Regions from separate parts of the Homo sapiens genome. Here regions 1, 2, 3, 4, 5 and 7 are each reported to be linked to region 6. The links are microRNA targets in miRTarBase. Many come from high-throughput screens and were not tested one by one. Region 6 holds a microRNA gene; each other region holds the end of a gene's coding sequence.
The links. Region 6 holds the annotated microRNA hsa-miR-548ax (AGAAGUAAUUGCGGUUUUGCCA, at 1,960-1,981, opposite strand). A microRNA usually pairs through its seed, bases 2 to 8, with sites in the 3' UTR of a target mRNA and lowers its output. Matches are read on the target gene's strand: a 7mer-m8 pairs with bases 2 to 8, a 7mer-A1 pairs with bases 2 to 7 and ends in A, and an 8mer does both.

Region 1: the mRNA of RAB14 is a reported target of hsa-miR-548ax. Seed matches in the 3' UTR shown: 7mer-m8 at 861-867.
Region 2: miRTarBase lists ZNF99 as a target of hsa-miR-548ax. The part of its 3' UTR that is shown has no 7-base or 8-base seed match.
Region 3: miRTarBase lists PPWD1 as a target of hsa-miR-548ax. The part of its 3' UTR that is shown has no 7-base or 8-base seed match.
Region 4: the mRNA of TRIQK is a reported target of hsa-miR-548ax. Seed matches in the 3' UTR shown: 7mer-A1 at 3,245-3,251.
Region 5: the mRNA of SKIL is a reported target of hsa-miR-548ax. Seed matches in the 3' UTR shown: 8mer at 2,223-2,230.
Region 7: miRTarBase lists IER5 as a target of hsa-miR-548ax. Seed matches in the 3' UTR shown: 8mer at 474-481.

Annotation. Positions count from the first base shown.
Region 1 is chr9:121,177,760-121,181,818 of GRCh38, reverse strand. RAB14 (RAB14, member RAS oncogene family) reads left to right here. Exons shown (of 8, transcript NM_016322.4): 8 at 246-3,686. The coding sequence ends at 423. Among named protein-coding and RNA genes, the nearest start is that of RAB14, 22 kb to the left of the region's middle.
Region 2 is chr19:22,753,742-22,757,811 of GRCh38, reverse strand. It overlaps ZNF99 (zinc finger protein 99), which reads left to right. Exons shown (of 4, transcript NM_001080409.3): 4 at 1-4,070. The coding sequence ends at 498. Among named protein-coding and RNA genes, the nearest start is that of ZNF99, 28 kb to the left of the region's middle.
Region 3 is chr5:65,586,651-65,590,720 of GRCh38, reverse strand. PPWD1 (peptidylprolyl isomerase domain and WD repeat containing 1) reads right to left here. Exons shown (of 11, transcript NM_015342.4): 11 at 3,172-3,468. The coding sequence ends at 3,325. It overlaps TRIM23 (tripartite motif containing 23), which reads left to right. Exons shown (of 11, transcript NM_001656.4): 11 at 1-1,031. Among named protein-coding and RNA genes, the nearest start is that of PPWD1, 25 kb to the right of the region's middle.
Region 4 is chr8:92,882,981-92,887,042 of GRCh38, reverse strand. It overlaps TRIQK (triple QxxK/R motif containing), which reads left to right. Exons shown (of 5, transcript NM_001171797.2): 5 at 308-3,509. The coding sequence ends at 421. Among named protein-coding and RNA genes, the nearest start is that of TRIQK, 81 kb to the left of the region's middle.
Region 5 is chr3:170,391,946-170,396,015 of GRCh38, reverse strand. It overlaps SKIL (SKI like proto-oncogene), which reads right to left. Exons shown (of 7, transcript NM_005414.5): 7 at 1-3,757. The coding sequence ends at 3,599. Among named protein-coding and RNA genes, the nearest start is that of CLDN11, 25 kb to the left of the region's middle.
Region 6 is chrX:11,316,697-11,320,766 of GRCh38, forward strand. It overlaps MIR548AX (microRNA 548ax), which reads right to left and starts at 1,990; the gene lies at 1,918-1,990. All of the region lies in intron 1 of ARHGAP6 (Rho GTPase activating protein 6), which reads right to left.
Region 7 is chr1:181,089,066-181,093,135 of GRCh38, reverse strand. It overlaps IER5 (immediate early response 5), which reads right to left. Exons shown (of 1, transcript NM_016545.5): 1 at 236-4,070. The coding sequence ends at 3,250. Among named protein-coding and RNA genes, the nearest start is that of IER5, 2.4 kb to the right of the region's middle. RefSeq lists silencers at 2,629-2,923, 3,498-3,717, 3,918-4,070 and an enhancer at 2,938-3,107.

The sequences.
Region 1 (4,059 bases), not on the chromosome of region 6:
CTGAGATCGGGCCACTGCACTCCAGCCTGGTGACAGAGTGAGTCTCTGTCTCAAAAAAAAAAAAAAAAAAAAAAGGAAAATAGTTTTCCATGTTCTCTTAGCTCAGTGTTCTGGTAATCTCTTATTAGATGACAGTGGTTAAGTTGGAGACATCATGGCAGTTAACTAAAGATTAGCAAAAGGTCAGTGTCTTGTCTTTTGTAGAAAACTGTGGTTCTCCAATAAAGTTATCAATTGCCTCTTAGGGGAGAGAATGTAGAAGATGCCTTCCTTGAGGCTGCCAAGAAAATCTATCAGAACATTCAGGATGGAAGCTTGGATCTGAATGCTGCTGAGTCTGGTGTACAACACAAACCTTCAGCCCCGCAGGGAGGCCGGCTAACCAGTGAACCCCAACCCCAGAGAGAAGGCTGTGGCTGCTAGTGACCTCTTTGCTGTGGCCCCTCATTTGACCTTTCACCTCTGTCTGTTGGAAGCAGTACTTTTTACTGCCTCATTGTCTTCTGTACATCTTACTGGGTTTAATTAAAAAAAAAGAAAAAACTCTGTTGTAAAAACAGTTTAACACAATACTAAACTGCTAAACAACTAGATGTAATCAGGTTATCAAAGGCAAGTAGAGTAATAAATCTCTCCTGCATGGTAAATCTAGACTTTTTTTCCCCCTTGTCCTCGTGATAAGTATGTCACCAATATATGATTTAAACCGAGCACTGATGCTGGACTTCATGATTTTTACCCTCCCTTTGGCAAGGCTTTGTCTCACTGTACGGTTTAATTTGGTGATATCTTAAGCCTTTCTTCCCATCCTTAACTGTTCAAGTATGTCTGTTGTAACCAATAAGTTTATTGCTGTGAAATTACTTCTGATGGTAGAGAAGGGGTTCTATAACTGCTTTTGTTTTGTTTTGGATAAATTTCCTGTTGTGTGGGTGGCATTTTTCTTAACGAGATTTGCTTCTGTCTTAGCCTCACACAGGGAAAATATCCATTTATCTTCTCTCTCGTGCTTAATTAATAGCTTTATCTTTTTTTATACCATTTTATCCTTTTCTCTTTAACAGAAAGTAAATATGTATAAAATTTGAAGGAATCGAACTAACAATACATTCTGTGTATATTATTTTAATGAAGAAAATAAATTGATTACTGGCATTGGAACAGTATAAAATACCAGTTTGTACAGTATGACCTATATGTGACCATGTTACTCCCTTCCATTTCACACAAAGAAATAGACACAACTGCAGTTCACAAGTAGTACTGGCTCCACCCCTTGGTGCTGGCAGTGTTTGGGGACATTATGCTGGAAAGAGCTCCTAGCATCAGAGGATTAACACTAGCAGATTCTGTTCCATCTTTGCACTGTTGCTTACCTGCTGATTTTCTTAACTGTTCTTGTGCAATCGACAATGTGCTAACCTGCTTTTCTCTTTTTGTAAACGTTTTTGCATTACAGGCTGCATTCTTGCCTTACTGTATAGAAAAAGAAAAAAGGCTGGGTTTACTATTGCACATTTTAAGCTTTTATACCTTTATCTTCTTGGAATGGTCAGATTCTGAACTGGACAGTCAGAACCACAGGTCTGCTGTTAAGGGATTTTAAATTGTGCATTTTTAACCCTACAGTGAAATAACTTAAGATATCCCTGTGTTCACAGTGTGAGGGGCTGTTTTATGTCATGTTGGCATAAATTGTTTTGTAAAAGGGAAAGTGTTTCTAAAGGTGTTTCAGCGCTTGTGCTGATACAAAGTAAGTTATTACTTTGCACCAGGTGGTTTGGCCACTGAATTAATACTGTATAGCAAGAGAAACAATCTTATTTTTTTGGACAACATGTTTTATTAAGTTCTTCATTTCTGTTGATTTTTTTTATTGCATTTATGATTCAGTGGCTGGGAATTGAGAATTTATTTGAAATAGAATAGGTAACACCTCAGCGTACTATAGAAAATGCACTCAGCTCAACTGCTGTGTTTAAAATACACATTTTAAATCCCTCTTTACAGACACTAACATAAAAGTACATCTTTCTGGGTTGTAAACATGTGGTAGTACCAGAGTATTGTATAGTCAATGTTAAATAAAAGCCAAAACTGGAATGTGCAGAAAGTAGGCTTTGGTTAATTTGTGGATTCATTTTTATTTTTGTCTTTGTTTAACTTTTTAAAAAATAAGATTTCTGGAGTAGATTGGTATATTCTGTTAAAGACTTACAGTGATCCATTTTGCTTACACTGTTGCATCACAAGGGACTCACCCAGGGACCATGACCTGCTGGTGTGTGTGTATATTTACAAAAACAAAACAAACAAACCACCCATTGGGATATAAGGTAGCAATCACAAACTAAAGACTGCGGCTTGTTGAGGTGCAATACCCTGACTCCCAAAGTTAGTTACAGTGGGTTTTATTGTTTTTGTGACTGAAGGATTTATTCAGACTGCTGTACTCTTCATTTGATGTAACAAAATGCTATTAATCTAAATATTTGTAAATAAAGTACCTGTATCTAGATTAAATTAAAATTGGTTGCATTATTTTCTGAACTATAATAGGGTTTTTCTTCAGGTGAACAATTTGACGTGTCATCAGTTTTTATTGCAGCACTGTCCATATTCATTGTATAAAGAGAGGTCTACGTATGTAGCATATAAAACCACATCACTAAGTAATAGACCCACAGCTTTATTCTTGTGTTTACATTACCCTTGAAATGTTTTCAGTCAACCCTTTTCAGTGTAAGATCAGCACATTTGGTGGCTGATGCTGTTCTCCTTTGACTGTACCGGGAGCCAGATTCTATCATATGCATGTGTAATCCCCTGTAATACACTCAGGTGCTCACAAATAGAGCAGATTGTCATATTGTAACATGCGTGTGCCAGACACCGGGCAGTACACTTTGGAAAGAATGTGAAATCCTTTTAATTTTTAATCCATAGCTTACTGCTTGTGCAGTCACCTGCCTCTTGAGGTTGCTCATTGCCCTTGGACCTGTGAGGAGGCCTTCAGATTAGTAATTGGTGCTTAGTACTATTTATGCTTAAATAGATCTTCCAGTACAATGTTGAAGTCTTTTTTATGGATAATAACGTGTTTGATGGAGTAACTTATTATTTTTTTTTGGTTGGTGGTTTACACGTTAATAGAGGTAGTACAATTTCTTTGGAAAGGTGTCTTTTGAAGCCAGCTGTTAAGCTTCATACATTACCTCCCTTCTCAAATTCGGTAAGACAGTAGTTTTGGGGAACTTTTTTGCCCATGTGTCTTTTAAGTGTGATTTTAAAAAAATGAGTGGTTCAGTTCATTCCCCTAAACAGAAGAAAAGACCAAATAATTACCTTCCATTCCTCTTCATGTGGGAATATAGAGAGGGTTCATGTGGCATTTTAGAGAAAAGATAATTTATCCTCATTCAACACAGGCCCAGAAAATTGTGTCCCAGAAGGATGTCAGTAATTGTGACTAGGCCAGGCCTTTTAGCATTTTGCTAAGACTTGAAACAAAAAATGTAAATACAAAAGAAATCAAGTTTTGTTTTGAAAGATGCCTTCTAGAACTTACTGTGTATTAATAAATTGTCACTTTCATTGTCTTTATTGTAACTCCATTGATCCCGTATCTTAACGGTTCACGTCTAGCCAAATAACTGTTTTGGAATAAAAACCTTGGTGGTGAGGGATGACTGCACTGTGCTGCTCTGTATTATTAGTAACAGGGTAACATACCTGTTGTGACTCAAAAGCTGTCTAGTAGTGATCTAGAAAAGAGTTCCCGAGAATATTTTAAAACTTCTTATTACATATTTCCCCCTTGGGAATAATTATGCCAGACTGTGAGAGCAGTTGCTATTCTAGTTTTTAAAGAAATGTATACATCATGGAGTTGAGCTGTTAATTATGGTAGTTCAAAATCTGAAAGGCAACACAATTTGAATTTATCACTGGGTCACATTCTCCAAGGTACAAAGTTTTCCTGATTTTCCACCAAAGAATATGTTGGCTAAGGAAAGGCATCTGAAGCATAATAGTTTTATAATTGATGTATTTCCAAAT
Region 2 (4,070 bases), not on the chromosome of region 6:
ACTGGAAAGAAACCCTACAAATGTGAAGAATGTGGCAAAGCTTTTAGCCAGTCCTCAACTCTTAGAAAACATGAGATAATTCATACTGGAGAGAAACCCTACAAATGTGAAGAATGTGGTAAAGCTTTTAAGTGGTCCTCAAAACTTACTGTACATAAGGTAATTCATACTGCAGAGAAACCCTGCAAATGTGAAGAATGTGGCAAAGCTTTTAAGCATTTCTCAGCCCTTAGAAAACATAAGATAATTCATACTGGAAAGAAACCCTATAAATGTGAAGAATGTGGCAAAGCTTTTAACAATTCCTCAACCCTTAGAAAACATGAGATAATTCATACTGGAGAGAAATCCTACAAATGTGAAGAATGTGGTAAAGCTTTTCAGTGGTCCTCAAAACTTACTTTACATAAGGTAATTCATATGGAGAGAAACCCTGCAAATGTGAAGAATGTGGCAAAGCTTTTAAACATTTCTCAGCCCTTAGAAAACATGAGATAATTCATACTGGAAAGAAACCCTACAAATGTGAAGAATGTGGCAAAGCTTTTAACAATTCCTCAACCCTTAGGAAACATAAGATAATTTATACTGGGAAGAAACCATACAAATGTGAAGAATGTGGCAAAGCTTTTAAGCAGTCCTCACACCTTACTAGACATAAAGCAGTTCATACTGGGGAGAAGCCCTACAAATGTGGAGAATGTGGAAAAGCTTTTAACAATTCCTCAACCCTTAAGAAACATAAGCTAATTCATACTAGGGAGAAATCGTACAAATGTGAAGAATGTGGCAAAGCTTTTAGCAATTTCTCAGCCCTTAGGAAACATAAGATAATTCATACTGGGGAGAAACCATACAAATGTGAAGAATGTGGTAAAGCTTTTAAGTGGTCTCAAAACTTATGGAACATAAGGTAATTCATACTGTAGAGAAACCCTACAAATGTGAAGAATGTGGCAAAGCTTTTAAGCATTTCTCAGCCCTTAGAAAACATGAGATAATTATACTGGAAAGAAACCCTACAAATGTGAAGAATGTGGCAAAGCTTTTAACAATTCCTCAACCCTTATGAAACATAAGATAATTCATACTGGGGAGAAACCGTACAAATGTGAAGAATGTGGCAAAGGTTTTAACAATTTCTCGACCCTTATGAAACATAAGATAATTCATACTGGGGAGAAACCGTACAAATGTGAAGAATGTGGCAAAGCTTTTAAGCAATCCTCACACCTTACTAAACATAAATCAATTCATACTGGAGAGAAACCCTACAAATGTGAAGAACGTGGCAAAGCTTTTAGCCATTTCTCACGCCTTACTAAACATAGGATAATTCATACTGGAAAGAAACCCTACAAATGTGAAGAGTGTGGTAAAGCATTTAGTCCTCAAACCTTACTAAACATAAGATAATTCATTCTGGAGAGAAACCCTACAAATGTGAAGAATGTGGCAAAGCCTTTAACCAGTCCTCACACCTTACTCAACATAAAACAATTCATACTGGAGGGAAAACCTACAAATGTGAAGAATGTGGCAAAGCTTTTAACCATCTTTCAGCCCTTACTAAACATAAGATAATTCATACTGGGGAGAAGCCCTAAAAATGTGAAGAATGTGTCAAAGCTTTCAACCATTTTACAAACCTTAATACACATAAGATAATTTATACTAGAGACAGACCCTCCATATGTGAAGAATGTGGCAAAGCTTTTAACCAGTCCTCAAGCCTTAATAGGCAGAAAACAATTCATGCTGGAGAGAAACCCCACAAATGTAAAGAATGTGGCAAAGCCTTTAACCAGTCCTCACACCTTAAATACACATAAAATAATTGATACTGGAGGAAAACCCTACAAATATAATAAAGGTGACAAAGCTTTTAACCATTGCTCAGCTGTTACTCAAAATGAGAGAATTCCTAAAGAAGATAAACTCCACAAATGTGAATAATATGGCAAAGCTTTTAACTGGTCCTCAAATCTTACTGAATGTAAGATAATTCATACTGAAGATAAACCCTTCAAATGTGAGGAATGTGGCAAAGCTTTTAATCAGTCCTCAAATCTTACTGAACATAAGATAATTCATAGTAGAGACAAACACTGCAAATATGAAGAATGGGCAAAGCTTTTAACCAGTCCTCAAACTTTACTCAACATAAAATAATTTATCTTGGAGAGGAACACTACAAATTTAAAGAATTTGGCAAAACTTTTAACTGCTTCTCAAAACTTACTGAACATAAGATAATTCATACTGGAGAGATACTTTACAAATGTGAAGAATGTGGCAAAGCTTCTAACGGGTTCTCAGATCTTACTGAATATAAGATAAATTAGAGAGAAACCCGCCTCATGTGAAGAGTGTGGCAAAACTTTTAACTGGTCCTCAAACCTTACTGAACATAAGATAATTCATACTGAAGAGAAACCCTACAAATATGAAAACTGTGGCAAAGCTTTTAACTGGTTTTCAGACCTTACTCAACAGAAAATAGTTGATACTGAAGACAAACTCTAGAAATGTGAAGAATGTGGCAATGCTTTTAATCAGTTAAACTTTATTAGACATAAGAAAATTCGTACTGGAGAAAAACCCTACAAATGTGAAGAAAGTGGCAATGCTTTTAGCCAGTCCTCAACTCTTGCTAAACAACATAATTCAATGGGAGAGAAACCCTACAAATGTGAATAATGCCATAAGCATTCTTCAATTTTTTTTTTTTTTTTTTTGAAACAGAGTTTCGCCCTAGTTGCCCAGGCTCTGGAGTGCAGTGGCACAATCTCGGCTCACTGCAACCTCCGCCTCCTGGGTTTTCAAGCGATTCTCCTGCCTCAGCCTCCCGAGTAGCAGGGACTATAGGCATGTGCCACCACGCCCACCTAATTTTGTATTTTTAGTAGAGACGGGGTTTCTCCATGTTGGTCAAGCTGGTCTCGAACTCCCGACCTCTGGTGATCTGCCCGCCTCGGCCTCCCAAAGTGCTGGGATTAAAGGCGTGAGCCACCGTGCCCAGCCTAATTCTTCAATTCTTAATAAACAATTTATACTGAAGAGAAACCCTACAAACGTGAAGAATGTTGCAAAGCTTTTAACGTCCTCAAACCTTACTGAACATAAGATAATTCATAATGGAAACTAGCCCTACAAATATGAAGAATGTGGCAAACACTGTAACCATTTCTCACATCTTACCACACATTAAGATAATTCATACTGAAGAGAAACCCGACAAATGTGAAGAATGTAACAAAGTCTTTAACTGGTCTTCAACTCATACTAAATATAAGAGAATTCATACAGAAGATAAATTTTATAAATATGAAGAATGTGACAAAAGCTTTAAAAACATTTCAACCCTTATTACACATAAGATAATTTATGTTGTAGAGAAATTCTACAAATGTGAAGAATGTGGCAAAGTTTTTTTTTTTTTTTTGAAATGGAGTCTCACTCTGTCGCCCAAATTGGAGTGCAATGGTGCAATCTCAGTTCATTGCAACCTCCGCCTCCTGGGTTCAAGCGATTCTCTGGCCTCAACCTCCCAAGCAGCTGGGATTGCAGGCGCCTGCCACCACGCCCAGCTAATTTTTGTATTTTTAGTAGAGACGGGGTTTCACCATTTTGACCAGGCTGGTTTTGAACTCCTGACCTCAAGTGATCCACCCGCCTTGGCCTCCCAAAGTGCCCCAAAGTGCTGGGATTACAAGCATGAGCCATTGAGCCCGGTCGAATGTGGCAAAGTTTTTAATAAGTTATCAAATCATACTGGAGAGAAGCTCTACAAACCTAAAAGACATGACAGTGCTCTTGAGAACACCTTAAACTTTTCTAAACATAAAAGAAATCATAGTGTCAAGAAGCCCTAGATGTGAGTCATGTCACAAAGCCTTTAAATGGTTGTCACACTTGAGTATAAGCTAATTTATCCTAGAGAAAACTATGAAGAATGTGGCAAAATATTTAACCAATACTCACACCTTATCGCATAGGAAAGCATTTATACTTGAAAAAAAATGTACACCTATGAAGAATGTGGAAAAGCCATTAATATCTGCTCACAT
Region 3 (4,070 bases), not on the chromosome of region 6:
GTTACTCTAGAGGAAAAATGTCTAAAGAAAAAAAAAATTCAAAAAGTTTACATTAATTATTCAGTGTTGTGAGTAAATAAAAATGTGTGCTCTTTACTGTTTTTCATTTTTAAAGAATATTATTATGGAAGCACGATTTATTTAAATAGGTACATTGAGACTTTTTTTTTTTTAATGTTCTGATACATTAGGATGAAGTTAAATCTTAAATCTTATTAGTTGAATTGTTGTAAGGACAGTGATGTCTGGTAACAAGATGTGACTTTTTGGTAGCACTGTTGTGGTTCATTCTTTTCAAATCTATTTTTGTTTAAAAACAATACAAGTTTTAGAAAACAAAGCATTAAAAAAAAAGCCTATCAGTATTATGGGCAATATGTAAATAAATAAATGTAATATTTCATCCTTTATTTTTCAGGTAAAAGGTCATGCTGTTACAGGTGTAGTTTGTGTGCATAAATAATACTTCCGAATTAAATTATTTAATATTTGACTGATTTCAATAACTGTGAAAAATAAAAAAGGTGTTGTATTGCTTGTGAGAACTTGAACTGTTTACTAGTTAATTGAAGAAAAAGTGTAACACTAAGGTGAACTTGCTTCCCTTTTCACTAATTTTGCTAAACTTTGTAATGCACATTCTTAGCATATAACTGAACACAGTTGAAAAATTGTGCCTGATTATAATGTATGTATAATGGTAGGTGTTTGTGTGTGATTCATTTTTAAAGAAATATTTTTCTCAAGCTCCTATTACTATTTGTGGTTGTATTATTTCACTAATCATTAGTTAAGACTGTGCTAGTCTTCCCTGGGAAACTAAGAAGAGAGCTTTTTTATATACAGTATATTAGAATTTTCCTAGTAGCTGAATTTCTGTATTAGGTCTAAATATTACTGTATGTTATATAAAGCAGGTATGTCAAGTGTATAGCCGTAGTCTATAATTCAGGAATGCTTTATAACCATCAGAAGCCATTATTTGCACTACATATATGATAAGTATAGACAGCAATAAAATGTTAAGATCATTTTTAAGAAGTCCCATCATTATTCTTGAAAGTCTCTTTCTTGAACCATCTACCTAATATTATTGCTAGTTGTAACCAATTTAAGAAGTCATTATTTGTGCTGTGGTTAGGAGAGAAAATAAAACAAAATGGGTATGGGTTGGCATGCCTGTCAAATTTGAGATGTAGTTTATTTGATACAGCAAAATTTTAGAAATAACGTTTTGAATTTGCAACATAGGCCACATTTACTGATGAGAACAGATACTAAACTTGATCTTAACTACACCTGATCTTAGCCAAAAGGCCGAGAAGTAATGTGCAGGCCACATTTAAATAAGTAATATAACCATAGTGTTTTGAAGGCGGAGCTAAAGTTTTACATTGAACGAAGTGAAACTTTGTTACTGCCTTTTAAATTTTAAATGTAAACTTGTTTCATAAGAAAACATAGTATTTTAAATGACCATTTTAGAAAATGGCTTGCAAAACTTAGTGGTAGCTCATGAACTAATACTGCTAAGAGAAAGGCTTTTTATGTAACACTGGGATACTTCTCAATTGGCAAAGTGCTAACAAAGAAGAAGACAGCTGTATTCTTCCCTAAAAGAATAAAGGATGAAAAGGACTAATGAATAAGGATGAAATTATATCCTGATAACTTAAAACATGCTTTTAAAAAGACATGGGCAATGTATGTTTTTAGGTCTGCCGATTAAGTTTTTGATATTAATCGAAAAATTCATTAGTCAAATATGGTTTTCACTCAAAGCAAAATAATTGTATTTGTTGGGGAATGAGGCATCATCACCACTTGGTGGCAATATTACCAAAAATTTAGATTAAATTTTTAGGAATGAATAAAGCTAGGTAGGTAAGACTAAACAACTAAAATTAGAAACAGTAAATGTCACATTGAAAAGTCATTTTCATGTCTAACTTTAAGTTCTACTTTTAAAAAGGAGCATACATTACAGGAGCACAATCTGGCATAATCTCCTATCTATCTCACAACTTTGTAGCACGAAATAAATAAAGAATCCTGCTGATCAATAGAAGGAAAAGTTTAAGCCGATTTAAAACTTAAGAATATAAATTCCCTACACAGGTCTGTTGAGAATGTTCTTCCTGTAAGTTTCTGAAAGAAAGAGTCTTTCTTTCTGGAAACGAAGCAGTGAGTCTTAATAGTTATGAAGTTAGTTATAAGTGTAAGTGAAGAAGATCAATATAAGAATTTGTGCTCATATTGTTTTACTGCTCCAATTTCTACTAATCTCTCCATTGTTAGATACCAAAATTTTTATGTATACTTCTTAATGGTATATTTTCTAAAGATATACTATAACTTGAGGACAGAAAAAATTGTTTACCTATGTTAGAAAAATAATCTGAAAATCAACCTGCATATAATAAACTAAGGACTCAGGTATTCACTTATTCTGAATCTTTCATTTGAAAGAATATTTCATAATTATTAAGGAATATAACACTTTGACCAAAGTAACTTCCTGTTTATTGAGGCTTTACTCACCACTACTTACTAAACAGTTATCAAAAGACTAAAATATTTGGCATTGAAACCTTGTAAAACAAAGGAAATGACATATAATATCATATCCTAGTATTTTTTTCTTATAGGAGGGATCTGCACTCTTCTAAACATAAGGGCGGAATATCTGGCAGGTATTCAAAATTAAAGCACAGTTGTGTACCACTGTCATTATTTAATAGAGTTGTCATCGCACGGGATACCTTCTAAGACCTCCAGTGGATGCCTGAAACTTCAGATGATACTAAACCCCATATATATTGTGTTTTCATATATATATATCTATGATAAAGTTTAATTTATAAATTAGGCACAGTAAGAGATTAACAACAATAAAATAGAACAACTATAGCAGTATACTGTAATAAAAGTTAGTGAATGTGGTCTTGCTGTCTGAAAATATCTCACTGTATTGTACTCACCTATTTTTGGATCATGGTTGACAGTAGAAAGAAAACCATGGGAAAGGGGGTGGAGGAGAGTACTGTAATTATTTAATATTTAATTTGAGGCTGATTAGAAATTACCTATAATGAGTGCTATTTGCCTGAGTTTAGTCCATTTCAATTTATCACCTCCCAGGATTAGAAATATTGCGAGAAAAGTCAAAGGTAATTTTTAAAAAATAGCCTTTAATAAAAAATACAAAAATACTGTATCTTTGAAACATGATCTGTATATTCAGCAAGTCCTAAGCTTCCTAATGTAAAATAATCTGTTTAATATTGTATTTTTATTTGCAAGTACATTAAAACAAATCTTATTTTACTTGACAGTAATATTTATGATGCTGACATCCTCATAGGGCTTATCTGTTTTGGGATTGACTTTGACGTTGGAGATCCTCTGTACAACTTCCATTCCTTTAGTCACTCGTCCAAATACTGTATGCTTATTATCAAGCCAAGGCTGTGTTGGAGGACAAATGGAAAATCTTGGTAAACCCCAATTTCTTTAAATTATATCCTCTGGTTGAGCAAATTAAAGAGAATTTAAGTTTACGCTCCCCTTTAGCATATATTTAAAAAGAAGTACAATAATTTCTCAGCAATAAAAATGTAGCAGCTTTTAAAAGTTATTTCCAGTGTGTTAAAAAAAATAGAAGCATAGTATAATGTTTAATTAAATATCTGCATCTTTCAGACCAAAGGGAACTGGAAGATCTTCCCTAAAGGTAAGTTACTTCACATGGCTTACAGAATTGTGGCTAAGGCTTTAAAAGGTCTCTGGAGGACTCTTACCTGAACAGTTTATTCAGAGGCAGTTTGAAATAGTTTATGCAGCACATACTTTGGCATTAGACAGGTGGGAGTTCAAATGCTAGCTTGGCTACTTGACCTTTTGGCAAGTTAATCATGTCTCACTGTTTCTTCATCTATTATTGAAAACTGGGGATACTGATAGTAGAAGTACTGTGAATACTACATAAAACTATGTGCCTGGCAGATGGTAGTTACATTTTTCCCTTCTTCATCACTTAGTGCTTAATTCCAAAACAAAAACTAGGTAAT
Region 4 (4,062 bases), not on the chromosome of region 6:
CTGATATCCAAACTATAAAAATATATTAAAATGATACATTTTTAATATTACTATAAGGAAAAAACAAATTAGCTAGAAATAATAATACTAATGACTCACCCACTGGTGTATTTGCCATTTCATTGGGACTTGCCAGTACAAAACAGTTTCTTAACGGCAAAAAATGGTAAACAAAAAGGATATGATTATTAGGTTCAAATTATTCATTCTAGACTGTGGAACAATATGGTTATTTTATCTGGTGAAACTAATAATGTTAACCAATCTTTTTTCATCAATTTCAAGTCTACTTTTTTTTTCTTCCCAGGAAGTTGGCCTTGTACTTGCAGCTATATTGGCACTACTACTGGCTTTCTATGCTTTCTTTTATCTCAGACTCACCACGGATGTTGACCCTGATCTGGACCAAGATGAAGATTAGCTAAGCAACAATCAATGCATGAAAGAGAAATAACTTTACGAAAGCACCTTTTGGGACCAAAACTTTCAATACTGAAACTGTAACATCTTTAATTCTTTCTGCTAATATTTTCAGTTTGCAGACATATGATTTTTGATAGTTGCATAGGATGTCAGGAAAAGAACCTTACCTAGCAATGCAGTATAGTATGTGCTACTGGATACTTTTATATATCTTTCTGCTTTGACAGCCACCCTATACATGGTACATTTAGATGAAATGGGAACCAGATCCTAAATTTTTCAAATGTCATTGCCAATTTATGTGTATAATTCCATCACTTCCTGATGAGTAAGTCTATTTTTGTTCTATATACATCATAAGTTAGTATATATTCTTATTTACAGAAACATGCTCAAATCACATTCAGAAAGAACAAAAAGTCATGGGAAATTTTTTATTTTACAACAAAGCCCTGCTTTCTTTCTGGACGTATTTTACATCATTAGAGAGACTATCTGCACATACATCTACCATAATCTTTTTCCTTCTTTGCCAACTGTTCAGTGCACATGTGCTGCATCAGAAATGGCACCTGGATGACAGAAGCTCAAAGAGTCACATATGTCTCTAAAATAGAGTTCTTTTCCTCTTGGGCTGTCTGAACTGGTGTAAATAGAAGCTCAGTTGATCTTGGTTTTAATTAACTTATTACTCTATTAATATAACCTTGGAATTCTATTCTAATTATGTTGTTCTGGCTGCTTGTAGTATCAGTTCGCCCCTCTTGTTAGGGAGATATGTAACAATCTGTCATTTAATTGAGCAGTCTTTTTCACATAACAGTAATAGCAAAAATCCTACCTACTCAGAATCATCTTCTTAGGTTGTCTCCTAAATCTGAACAATACAGTTGTTTTATAAAATTACATTTTGTCTCTTGAGATTTAATCAATTAGAACTCTTTAGGGAGAAAATAAATAATAGAAGAAAATATATGCCTCATATTTCATATGTAATTATCTGTTGATATAATTTTTCAATGTATTTTGTATTTGTGGGAGCATAATGACCTGTACATTCAATATTTTTACTGGTAATTCAATTTTTAAATATGTTTTTACAATGCTTGAACACATAAACCTTAGAAAACTGGAAAATACGTGTCCACAGAAAGAGTTATTAGCTACTACCTTATGTAAAGATGCATAGAAAATGAAATTGTTGGAAACATGTGCACAAAGTGTTTTATATTATATACATTGTATTTATGAAGAATAAATAAAATATTAAGATTGTTTTCCTGCTAGCCAAGAGAAGAAATCCTTGGGAAATATCTAAGGAGTATATGGGGCTTTATAAGCACTGTTTCTAAAAGATATTCTCTGGTACTTTTGCAAAAAGTCGACTGTGACTGTGTAGCATTATGTTCTGTAGAATTTTTTTCAAGTAGCATAATTTATTTCATTGGTGTGAAAACAGCCAAAGGTTCCAATATCCTCACAAATCATTTATGCCAAACATCTGAGGGCAAAATTTAGCCGGTGTTATTTACTAGATTCTTCCCTTTGAACTCACAGACTCAAGAGACAGACCAAGAGTTCTTATATACTCACCACAGCGGACCAATCCAAGTGGCATTTTTAGGAAAGGTTGCAGCATTTAATGCCATGTGGTATGTCTGTTCGTCAAGTGGGTGGCAAGGGAATATCCAAGCTGGCATTTTGGATATGATGGGCCTTTTACTTTCCTGAGTGACATGCCACATGTCAAGAAATACTGCTCCCCACCCCCCCACTCCCATCACATTTACGTGAACAATTTTCATTTAGTTATTTCCCGTTCCATATGGTGTTAAAACAGTCGTATTAAATAAAGATTATTTCTAGTTTTCAGTGGTAATTTAAATGAGAGGATATGTAATAATTGCTTATTAGATACTTATCCAAATGAAATATAACAGAGTTTACAGTACTTAAAATGGCTGGTTATGGTCTTGGAAATGTTTGAAAATTCATTATCCTGAAAAAAACTTTACCATTCTGTTTTACCCTTGAGGTATTTTTTGGGGAAAAATGTTTTTGATAACTATTAATCTAAATATAGTATAATTATAGGCAAATTTCACTGCCTAGTTTTATTGATATCCTGAGTCTACAGCTAGTCCATTCGTATGACTGATTGATTTATGATAGCTCCAGAGAACCATAAATTTCAAAGGCTAAACTCTCTGATTTTAGTAAATAGTAGGTAAAGTGACACAATATATGTTTACACAACACTGTTTTCATGAAATGCAAACTTTGCAAAACTCACATTAACTGGGAAGCAGCCAACCCTCTGTAGAGAAATCCCAGATTGGGAGTCTGGTTTGAATCTTTGAAGACAGAAAGGTGATATCCGGCCTGCTGTTTTAAAGGGACCACACTTTTGAATACCTACTGGTGTTTGGCAGAAATCTGAGACTGGCACCAGACACAAATTTTAGACATGGGTATCTTCCCTCCAGTAATTCACTGCTCAGAGTAATTTAGAAGACAAAAACAGAAAAAATTGTAATGATTTTTTAAGTGTTAGAATATGTTTGTTAACATACTCTGCAAAATAAATTTCAACTAATGCAATAGACTTAAAATATAGCCTATGGAATACTGTGATTGAAGTTTGAAGGCTTGCTGGTTCTTATTTTGCATGCAAGTTTAGACAGGGTAAAGAATGTATAAATTTATTTGAGATGAGATACAGTATTGTAAAAATATAACCTCATCTAGAATTGCTTTTAAAACAAGCAAAAGCCTATTTTAGTACAAATGTAGGGTGGGTAGTTGTTTTAAGGTAGCAAAATACTTCAAGATTTTCTATCTTTTTAATTTTTCATGAAGACAGAAGAAATACTTTCACCCCAACCAATGACTGTAAGATCTTGAGAGTATGTTCTTACTCATTTCTGTAATTGCAGTAGTGTAGTCATCTGCATATAAATTTAATAAATGCATGTTAAAATTTAAGTTGATGCCTTTTAGTCCTCTCAGAGTCTGTCACAGTTTCTTTGTGTAAATGATAAAAAAGTTTGAATTTAATCAATAAAACTTAAAAATCACAATATCAATCAACTCGGCATTTACCATTTATGGTCCTTGGTTGTACTGAGATATATACGTGTTTCATCCTGATTCTCTTTAAATCAAGACAACTAGCATTAAGGTCGCTATAAAATAGAAACATTGCTCTTTTCTAGGGAATCAAATATGCTATTTTTATCTTAGAATTTATTAAAAACTATACTCAATGTTTGAATTCAACTTAGCATGCATTTTCACTCCAAATGAAAATAGAACTCAATTTTCATTATAATGTTTATGTGACTACTAAAACACTGTATTTTCCAGGTTCTAAAATTATATACTCAATGATAATTCAGTAGAGCAAATTGTGCTATACATCAGCGTCAGAAATATACTTCTAGAAATTAAACCCAGCCTATTTTAATGTATTTCATCCATAACATAAAGTTGTTGAGCCAGAGACTACCTAAGATAATTTTGTATTCTCTCCTCACCAACAATTAGACTTCTTTACACTTACCTGGGGCTTCTCTGGGAGATTCCTACCACTTCTCCCTTAGCAGCACTGCCTTCTTTTATTAGAATTGCTCCAATGCA
Region 5 (4,070 bases), not on the chromosome of region 6:
AAAAACTGTCCTTTTAAATGAAATGCAATATAAAATACTAATACACTTTTCTTCCAAAAGTGGAAATGCTTAAGTACCCTATACTAGAAAAAAAAAATTAGGCTGTTTATTCAATTCCACAATGTATAATACAGCAGTTTTATGTCCCTTATTGCTGACAGCTTCGATAAAAACTATTAACAAGTAGTTCCAAGCACAGAAACAGATGTACAGTATGAGCACGATTTTTCTTTATATTAATTTTTAATGTCCTATCATGTGGATTAAATGCATAAAGGGCAAATAAAAATGAGGAATCTTCCCTAAGTAATCAAAACATATGCCTTATTGAGAAGAAAATTTTAGAAGCTGATTAAAATCCTTCAGCACTAGCTTTGCAATTAATTCTGGAGAAATACCTTGACACATCTTATAGTATTTGAGTTTCCTTATAACTTTACCTTCCTTCAAACAGAAGCTACCTATGTGCAAATAAACTGGTTGTTCTGTCAGGACTTCTAAAAGATATGGATAACCGGCAAATATATACTTTATTTCACCTACTTTAATAGCTGCTTTACAATTCGCTATGTACAAATGATTTTATATCTTAACTGGTAATATATTAAATATGTTATAAAATTAGTTCAAGAAGCATAAAACACCCTAACTCTCATGAACACAGAAATTCAAGCAAAAGAATATGCTTAAACAAAAACTAAAGCACACAGCAAACGTAAATTGTTGGTCAAATCTTTTCATAGTGTTATAAGTTACATTTGTGAAATTTAGGGTAGTTGAAGAGCTTCCTCAATAACAGCAAGAGGTTTTACATTTATTACCTTTATAGAGTAGGTACACTTTTCTCATAAAGTTTAGCCTACAGAAACTATCGCCACCCAAATTAAACATCACCCAAGCTAATATTCTTTCTTCCTTCTAAAGATGAGCTAGCAAAACTTTTTATAGGTTGTCCCTTTAATGCAGCTTTTTAGAATAAACATTTTTACATTTTTTCTTAAAAGAATTATTTTTTGAAGTCTGAGGAAAAATCCGCTTGCCTAGTGAATTTGGCACACAAAGAGTAACAACAAATCAAACTTTAAGCTAGCAACCAACACACAAAATAAGCATGCAAAGAATAGAATAAGTTTTATATGGATAAGGTATTTTAGCCAACTCCACTTATAAGGTATTACAAAATCTCTATATTGTTTTGAAGCTATGTGTTGCAGTTTAAAGTTACTTTTAACAATAATACGTATATTTACAATTGACTTAAAAAACTATTTTCAAGGAAGTTAGAAACCTATGGCACACCAACGCATCTTCTGGAAAATGAAGACGATACAATGTCATGTGGCAAGTTTTCAATATATGAAGGACTAGAAAAAATATTTCTTTACTCAATTCTGAATTACAAGTTCATAATAATTTAATGGTGTTTAAGCACTGCTTAAAATTTTCCAATAACATATTTCAAGGATTAAGCAATTTATTTTAGAAGTTTTGGGTTAAACAAATTATCATTTTCTAGGTAACATAAAGCAGAAAGGTTCCAAGTGAATTAGAAATATAAATGAAATTATAGGTGTTTGAGTTTGTCTTCCAAAAAGCTGAGCTGTGACACAAATAATTCAAAATTAAAATAAAACTATATCATAAATATCTGATTTTTCCTTCTCCAGATCTAAATAGATTGTATTGGGAGAATATGTCATTTTAAATATTTGTTTCTAAAAATTAGCCGGGAGTGGTGGTGGGTGCCTGTAGTCCCAGCTACTCGGGAGGCTGAGGCAGGAGAATGGCTTGAACCCAGGAGGCAGAGCTTGCAGTGAGCCGAGATTGCACCACTGAACTCCAGCCTGGGAGACAGCGAGACTCTGTCTCAAAAAAAAAAAAAAAAAAAAAAAAAAAAAAATTTGTTTCTACATGTCATTTTAATATTTGTTCCTCCTTGAGAAGATTCCAAGACTCAACGAATTAAATTAGTCTTAATATAGCAAAATTTAAATGGAAAATAGAAAACACACATTTAGGTTATACTCAATTTAGTAAATAAATTACATTTGGGGAAGTACAAAATTCTTTTTGGATATGTACTATTAAGCAAAATATGAAAATAACTGGTTAAATGACAACCTAGTGATTCTTTCTACACCATTAGATTATCTACCTTCTATGCTGGAAATAGAATATAACCTTAACCCTAGCTAATTTATTTTAAAATAAATATAGCTCTCTGAAGTAATTTCATACATAGTATCTTATAAGAGAACATGAAAAACATTTATTATCCCATAAAATCCATGGGGTAATAATGTCAATTAATGATAGTTTCAGGAAACTCCCTTTAAAAACAGATCTAAGAATTTTACCTAATATATTTTGAGCCAAGAATTAACAAATATGAAATTTGCCATTAGAGAATGACAGACTTTTCTGTGCAAAAAAAAAGTGCAGAAGATGTTGTCCCTCCTGAAACTATGGAATTCCTTTATCTTCTAAAACTTATCTAAAAATCTTTTAGTAGCAGGTAACTAAACTGTCCTATATGCACCTATCATGTACTATCAGTTGACTGTAAATTCCTGATTTTGATATTAAGTAGTAAATGAAAATGGTCCATTCGTGCAAATTTTGGTAAGACAACATTTAAACATACAGAAGTCCAAAATAACCTTCAAGGTGTTTAACATTTTACAACTTAAAGGAAAACAAGTCCATTATATAAATTTTAGTAAGACTCATAACTACATGTAAAAACTGTACAGGAGGATTATGGATTGTATAGAAACTGATACACAACAGTGGTATCAGTTTTTCTCAAGAACGTTAATATTTTCACACCACTATTAACAACACAAACAAAAGTTCAGAAATTATCACATTTTATTTTTGAAAAGTTGCTGCTTAAAAAAAAATCTAACTATAACCACATTTAAACTGAAAAACAAATTACAACTGCTGCTTCTGTTTAGCAGCAGCACATAACAACACATTCTTCTTCCCCACTGTGCTCATGGGGTATGCTATAACCTCAGTAAAATTCCTCCTAGGGTACACATTAAAAAGAAGAGAACTGGTGGAAATTCATTCCACAATCTGAACAAAGTAAAAGTAAATTTGGTGTATGTTAATGAGTACACCATATCAACTTAGAAAAATTGTGTTAATGAGAAAAGGGGAGATTCAACTCCTTGAGTAGCTCTATATACTTAAAATATAAAGCCACCATTGTATCTAAAATTGAGTCTGAAATATGGATAACAAAATTGACCACAGCTATTTTCCAACACATATTGCAGCTTTTAAAAAGTACACAATTGTTAAGTTTGCATTAGAAATATAAGCAGATTACCTACTAGTTGAAACCATATAGTATTGTTACTAAGCTGATTTTTTTAAAAAAGTACAAAGAAACATACATTTTCATTCATTTGGAAAATGTAAAAATTTAAGTACTAATATATAATCTCTTCACTTTCTCTGATCTACAAATGGATAGAATGCCTAGTTATCGTCATGCAGATAAATTCTTCAGAATTCAATTACCAAAGCAAGCAACAAACAAAAAAAACCTTGTCAGTAATACACAGATGAATCTCTTTAACAGTTTCTATTCTTTAGCAGTCTTTGATGATTTCAGAATTTGCAGCTTTAGCTCTTTTATCATCATCTCTAACTTCTGTCTTGCTTCCCGTTCCTGTCTGAGTTCATCTTGGAGTTCTTGCCTATCGGCCTCAGCATGGTCCAATCTCTGCCTCAGTTCTGCCAACTATGTGATTTAAAAGGCGCTATCAATTTTAATTGTTTTGTTTTTCCATTTAATCCTCATATCATAGAAAATATCTATTTTCAAATTACTTTTTACAAAACGAACTATTTCATGTATACTAAATCCATTAAGCATCTAATACTATTAATCTGACATCTGACAGGACACTAAATTTAAGAAAAAGCAAAGGAACAAGAGGAAGGAACACATCCAGCATGTTCATGTTCATTATGCCCTATACTTTACTATACCGCTCATCACAGCCTGCTCATGTTAGTTATTTGTTCATGTTCCTTAAATTGTGAGATTCTAT
Region 6 (4,070 bases):
CATCTCTCCAACCCTCAGCCCCACCCCCAGGTTCTGGAAAGCACCATTTTAGTCTCTGCATCTATGAGTTCAACTTTTTTAGATTCCACATGTAAGTGAGAAAGTGCAGCATTTGTCTTTGCTTTCTGTGCCTGGCTTATTTCATTGAACACAGTGTCCTCCAGATTCATCCATGTTGTTGCAAATAACAGGAATTTCTTCTTTTTTAGGGCTGAATAGTAATGATGCCTGAATTCCCCTCTCTTGCTAATAACAAAATAGTACTATTATATGACGGGTATTTATTGTTCTGGTTGACAGTGTATAGCATGGACATGCCACATGCATTTTGGGGCTCAGTGAGCTGATCTTGGTAATACTGTTCCCCACCCACGATTGATCTCAGAACCCAGGCCTAAAGCCTTTTGTACTATAGGCACCAGCATGTGAGGGAAATGTGGCTGGAAGCCTTTGGAAATGTTTCCTAGAATGTAAGTGAGTTATAGGCAGAGGAAACCTTTCTTCTTCTATGCCAGAGTTACTCAGCACTATTGACATTTTGGGTTGGATCATTCTCTCTGGTGGGGCTGTCCTGCACACCGAAGATGTTTAGAAGCATCCCTGGCTTTTACTCACTTGATGCCAGTAGCACCTCTCCACTTGTGACAACCAAAAATGTTTCCCGACTTTGCCAGATGTCTCCTGGGGTGGTCACCCACAGTTGAGAAACACTAGCTTAGACATCGTCATATTTATCCCCAAACTGCCACAGGTTCTGTTGCTATCAGCCTAGAGGTGACACTTAGAGGGACATAAAATGAAGAGCACTGCAGGAAAAAGGTCAAGTCACTGGATGAAACCCTACATACTTATGGATTTTGGTGACATGAGCCTCTAAAATTCCTAATTATTTAAGGTGGTTTAAATGGATTTTGCTTTTATTATAAGCCAAGGGCATCAAAGTGATCCAAGGTCCAGAATCACAGGCCACTGTACATTGCTTTCTTCCAGGGCATCATACTGCTTGGAGAAATGACACCGGCCCCACCTTAGAGCAGGATTCCATAGTACAGCTTTACATGAAGGATGGCAAGTAGAATGGCTCATTTTTCCATTTCATAATTATTGCTTATACACTGTTGTTATGGAATTATAGAATTTTAGAGCAGGAAGGAATTTTAGGGATGGAGAATTAAGCTAAAACCAATGTCTATGTTTATCTTCAAAGGAAGGCCTTCAAAAGAGGATCAAGCCCGGTGCCTCCAAATATTAGGGAAAGTGCCATTATCCACTTCAAAACACATCCTGAGCATGACAAGTCATGTTACATCTTGTGTTAAAAGCAAAAGGAAATATTTTCTTATAGCCACATACCCTTAAATATTCCCTTCTCCATAAATGGAAATTCTATTTGGCTTTAACGTCTACATCAATTATCTATTTACAGCAGACTTCCTGTCATTTCCAAAAGCAGAGTTGTCATTTAATTCTACTATCCAGCAATATTGCTTTTAATGTGAAAAATGATGAATAGATACAGCTGGCATAATTGCTGGACTTTAAGTTCATAGCATAGTGGGGAAAGGAAGAAGATAAAAAATACAATCAATTTATTTTACTGTTTTATATATATACATATAAATCTGCATTATCTTTGCTTATAACAGCAATTTGAGCTTACAACTAATGTAATCATAAATATAAAAATAAGCAAAATGAGTAAAATTAAAATCATCCATAATCCAACAATCATTGATTATGTCTTAATGAATATTATCCCCTATATTTTTTGCATATTGAAATTTTCTTCTCAAAAAGTATCATATTATTTTGCAATCTACTATATTTAAAACATCCCCTTTTATCAGATATTTAGCTGTTACTTATTCATCCCCATTGTAAACAGTGCTGCATATGAATAGTTGGCTGAAATTATTAGGTTGGTACAAAAGTAATTACGGTTTTTGCCATTACTTTCCATGGCAAAACCGCAATTACTTCTGCACCAATCTAAATAAATTATATATGCTTAGAAAGAAAAATGGAAGGATAAAACACAAATGAAGAAATTCTGAAAAATGGACCAATATGTAGGATATTGTTGGCTTCAAAATCCTGTGAGGATTCAACTGTTGATCCAGTCCCCAAAGCAATCAGATCTACCAATGGATAAGAACCAGGGCAGACAGCAGCTGCCAAGAAGACAGAGGGGAGGGAAGAGCAAACCAGTTTTGCAGTGAAGGAAACCACCCAGGTGGCAGACTTGATGGAACAAACACTTTAAGTGAACCTAATGGAAAATGGTTCAACAAATGGACCACCAGTAGATTTTCTCAGTTTATAAATGATAGACCCATTGCCTAGAGAAAAGAACAGCTTTTATTCAATCATATAATAAGTAAAAGGAAATAATTTGCTCCTCTAAAAAAGTCCTGTGATGGTAACTCCACATTTCTATATCTATATCTATATCTATATCTATGTCTATCTATATATCTCTCTCTCAAAATATCTGTATTTATATCTGTATTTGTATTCATATTTGTATTTATACCCATACCTATACTTGTACTTACATATGTATGTGTCATTGTACCCACATATCTTGCCAGCCATCCAACCATCCATCCATCTACATAGAAGTGCTTCTTAAACTGGAGTATGCATCAGAATCCTCTGGAGGGCTTGTTAAAACACAGATTACTGGGCCCCATCCCCAGAGTTTCTGATTCAGTAGGTCTTCAACAGGGCCTGAGAATTTGCATTTCTAATGTTTCAGGGTGATGCAGCTGCTGATGGTTCCGGGATTACACTTTGAGAACTGCTGCTTACACCTGTACCCCTCTCATTCTCTCTTTCTATCTCATTACCAAACTCTAATTTAATGAACATACAGTTACCCGCACATATTTTGATTCATTATCAATTGTCAATATACATCACAGTGTTAAATACTACACAAAATAGATATTATGCTGATTTCAAATTTCTCTCCCCTTAATTTAATAATAAAATTATAAGATACAAAAATTATTACCATGTATATTTTTCCTCCCAGGAGAATACTTAAATCGTGGTACATTTCTTGCTTTTACTTGGTTTTCACTGCCTTTGGCTTCTAACTTGATGTATTTACATCTTAATGGTTCAGATTTATTTTCCAAACAGTGAGATGAAACAGGGACAACTCAAAGGCAGCTTCATTTTGAAATTGGCCAGGCTTTTGTAAACAAACCCTTGACAGAGCAATTTCTAATTCTCTAAACAGCTGGGGGGGAAAATATCACACAGAAAAGCAGATGTTATTCGCGTAACTTCTTTTTTTCAGGTCTACAATCATCATCTACAGCACCGGATCCACCATATCACTTCAAGTAAATTTTGACTTTGCTAGGTTTCAACCACATTACTCACATTGGAGATGTGAGTCAAAGAATAAAGCTTCTCAGAGACAGCTCTGTGGATGCCTCTTCATGTTAGGTTGACAGCTTTTGATTTAAGCGTTCTGTTAGCTCATGACTGCAGCATGCAATAGGAACACAGTTCCTCAGATGCCAACCCTAACCTAAATAAAAGCTAGACCGGCATCTCCTCAGGGTCAAGTTAAAGAATATGGGCTGTGCTGTCTCAGACCTCAGCGGCTACCAATTAGTGGGAGACAAGACATGTATAAAAGGAAATTTAATTGGTAATTTTAATGGATAAACAACTGCAGGGTTGAGAGAAAGAGGTCACTTGTGCTGGTGGAGTTGGGGAAAGTTTCATATTCCATGCATTCAGATCTTGAGAAACAAAGGTTATATCTCCAGAAAGCAAAAGGCGGACATTGAAAAGGGAAGCAAATCTTTACAGATGAAGTCACAGCAAAGACAATCTGGAGCCAGGAATTAACGTGTGACAAGAGAGGGAATAATCCCAGGGATGATGAATTTTACTACTGAAATGATTATAAATTACAGCCACCTACAACCTATTGTGAATGGCTTTTATGGTATCAGAACAGAATAGTTAAAGGAATAGGAAAAAATCTTGTGCCCTAATGAAGAAAAGGGAGATGTGTGTTTTGCTCAATTCAAAGAAAATATCTCTTT
Region 7 (4,070 bases), not on the chromosome of region 6:
TTTTCTTTACTCATCCACAGAAAGCATTTGTATGTCAACAAGAACTTTGCTCCTTGCCTGTTTTCACTTCAGCTTACTCCTCCCTGAAAATAGAGTTGTTTGATACAATTGGAAAAATCATCCGGTTGGTGTGAGACATTCACAGCAACAAAACTATGTTGGTAGAACAAAGCTTCCTGACTGCCAAGTGTCCAGAGAAAAAGAGGAATAAAAGAACCCAGCATTCACACATAGGACCACTTAAAAATAGATTCTCCATTCTCCTCTTTTCTTACAAATACACACAAATCTTTGACCACAGTGTATCTGATTTATACACAGAATTAACTTCTACATTAACAATAATTAACAGTTGCGTGCTTATTACATATGAGGTACTCTTCTAAGAGCATTAACTCATTAATTTTCACAACCCTATGAGACAGATCCAATTATCCCAATTTTACATTTGAAAAACCTGAGGCACAGAGAGATGAAGTAACTTGTCCAAGGACCCACAGCTAGGTGGCAGAGCCAAGATAGAAAAACCCAAGCAGGCCAGGTTGTGGTGGCTCATGCCTGTAATCCCAGCACTTTGGGAGGCTGAGGCAGGAGGATTGCTTGAGGCCAGGAGTTCAAGACGAACCTGGTCAACATAGCTCACTTTATATTTACTTTTTATAATTAAATAAATAAATAAATAAAGGAAGACACCAAGCAGCCTGGCTCCAGGGCCCATGCTCTAACTACTATACTATACTGCTTCTGCAACAAAAAAGAGAATGATCTTTTCTAATTCCTACAAAGCTTTATCCTCCTATCAAGTATGCCAATTTACATTCTTTAAGCAGACACATGGACCCAGGTTCATCTTAATGTAAAACCAAGGATCAACTTTAGTCTCATCCAAAACACATCAGCTCTCTTAAACACACCAAACGTTACCCCCTTTAAAACATAAAATACACTGAGATCGCTGTTCAAGCATCATACTTTCTAACAACAGGAAATGTTTGCAGAATTAAGGCCCTGGACACCTTCTTCAGTTTAAGCAGTCAGCACTTGATGGATCTTTTGTAGCTGTAACAGAATTTAAGTAGCTACTTTCTGAAAGAAAAAGTCAGTTTAACAAGACCCTAATTTGAGAATGTTTAATTCTATAAATACATTATTATGGCGACAGAGCATAAAGTACAAAGTTCCCTATGCTTAAGGAACCACTAATAGATTTGCCGAAATATCAAGGCACGAGGCACTGGCCTATTCAGCTAAAACAGAAGTTCGTATAATTGGGAGTTAAGGCCAAGACACCATTCATATGCCTCTTATGCTCGAAGGCTATGACCTTTAAACCTTTGTCTTTCTTCAATCTCTCCCATCTTTTAAATACCCTATATACTCGTAAGTTGTTAGAAACCAGTACCATCTTTTAAAGTCCTGGCAACTGTACCGTATTTTAATAAACACCATTCCCTAATTGATTTGCTTCTGAAATAGATTACTGAATACCTTTCAAACATTGAACATGAAGAGACAAAAAACTCTCTTAATGGCAGTGATTTTAGTAAAATCGATGGATGTTTTGGCTATCATCACCTAAGTGTCTACCATGACCAAACACTGATGTCACCATTTAAGTAACAAAACAAATCAGGAAGTTTTGCTAAATGAGAACTAAATTTGCCTAGCCCTCCTTCCTTATCTGGTTTGATGCAAACAATTTCCCTCTCAGCAATATATTTACTTTCTAGATGTAAGAGAAAAACTGAAAATTTACATCCTGACATCCACTGTGATGCAGAGGTGGACCTGACAATTTGGACAAGTCAGTCTCTTTCATCTTCCTATGTCAGTTCGAATGGGCTTTTAAGGTAAACTACTATCTAAACTTTTTTTTTTTCAATTACAAAGCTAAAAGATGACCCGTATTAATAGCTTAACAGGAAACAAAGTTTTGCTGAAAAACATTTTTGTGGATAAGCGGGGCTTCAAAAGTTGGTTAAATTACTTAGTATTAGACACCCACATATTGGGTGACAAATTGGTCTAAACTGACCTTAGAAAAGGCAGTTGTAGTGGCAGGTTTCTAGAACCTGACAGGTCGCCGATATTAGTATCTAATAGCAGTCCTCTGATCTAGGAGGAAAAATTAAACGTGTCTCTCTTGATACTTAGTGGAGTCAGTAAACAATGTCCTCAGTCTGCGAATGACTGATACTAAGAACCACACCTTCAATTTTCTAGCTCAGGCCCTGGTTTCCCTCCTCCCACTTCCCTCCCAACCCAGGCAGGTTATTACAGACAAGCAGGCAGTTACGTTGCTTCAAAATATTTAATACGTGTTAGACACGTAGAAGTTACATTTTTATACAAAAATCAATACAACGAAGGAGAAAATACTGTACAAAAACCTTATCAGCTCCCCCAACCTTTATACAACAAAGACTGGAGTCACCATATCTACAAAACCATAAGGTCTTTCCACTTCGGGCTTCTGTCTGTAAACTCTCATTAAACACTTTTTAAAAGCACTGTGTAGTACTTCTGACCTAGAGCTTTTAAAAATATATCTTTTCTCTATAAACTCCATTATTTCCAAGCTTGAACTCTTCTGTGAAGTTCGTCAAGCTTTTTCTCCCCTGCGGGGAAGCAAAGGACCGTTAATACGCCCCTTTCCTAGAGTAATCACAGGATATAAACGTTTCTTCATTGGGAGAGAAAGGTGGGGAGGGACAGAAGGAATCCAAGTCTGTGCTCTTGGCTAAATCCCTCTCGTCTTAGGAAATCCTGTGCGGAAACGCCACTCCTGGCCCTGAAGCGGGTCTAGCTTTCCGGTGAGGGGTAGGTGTAAAGTCCCTCCCTCCCCGGAGAACGAATGGGGAACTCCCCGGCCCAAACCTTTTAGCCGCTTCCTTCTCCACGCAGCCGGCAGAGGAAAGTCCCTGTCTGCCCCCAATCTCTTAAACCCTGGGGAAGGAGTGGTGCATTCCAGAAGAGCAAAATAGTCTTAATGCCACAAGACAAACTTACATACACAGACATACACAAACACAAAAGTTAACGATCGTCCTCTTCCAATGAGCCTCAAGCTCCCAGGTCTCCAGATAAGCCAGATGCGCCCGGGGGCAGTTTGCGATGCCCAGAGGCAACCAGTCTGCCCAACGCGCTCAGCGCCCGCGGTCTCTGGGCGTCCTCGCAGCCGGGAAGGGCCTGGCCCTCACTTCGGGGACGCCCGCTGCTCCACCTCCTCCCCGCAGGGGGGCCAAGGGCTCAGAAGGCCACGATGGCTGTGCTCCAGGGGTTCATGTCTCTCAGCACCGGCTTATCGCAGCAGATCTGCCCGGGCTCGGCGGCTTCCGGACCGCTCTCCTCTCCCTCCTCTTCCTCTCTGCCGCCCCCGGGGCTTTTCCGTAGGAGTCCCGAGAAACTGGAACCGAAGATGCTGATGAGGTTAGCCACGTTCCCGGTCTCCATCTCCTCCGCGTCGTCGTCCTCTCCTCCACTCGGCGGCTGCTCTAAGTTCCGGCGGGGCTTCTTGAGCGGGGTCGAGCCGGGCGCCGGGCAGCCCGCTGGGCCGCCGCCCACCCCCGCCGCGCAGCGCTTCCTGGGGCACACCGCGGGCGGCGCGGGGGGCTCGTCCTCCGCTGGTTGCGGCGCGCAGCAGCAGGCAGCGCGGGGGGTCGCGGCCGGTGTACCCGGCGGGTCCTCCCCGCCTAGGGGGCAGCCGCAGGGGCGGCGCGCGGCACGAGATACCTCGGGGAAGACGCCCCAGCCTCCGGCGGTACCCTCGGCTTCTCTGGCCGCCGCCTGGCGCGGCCCCTCCACGCGGCTCCAGGCAGCTTCCGTCGCGTCCGCCTCTCCGCCCTGAAAAACGTCCCCGACTCCAGTCACCGTGGCCACCGGCACCTCGTCCCCTACCCGCGGCGCGTCTGAGACGGAGGAGCGCTCCGGCTGCGGCTCGGTCTCCGGCCAAGAGGCACGAGCGGCGGGCGGGGGCGGCTCTCCCCAGCCGGCGGGTGGCCCGGCCGCCGGCTCCCCGGGCTGCTGCTGCGGTGGCGGCGCCGGGGTCCCAGCGGGACCGGCCAGGTAGA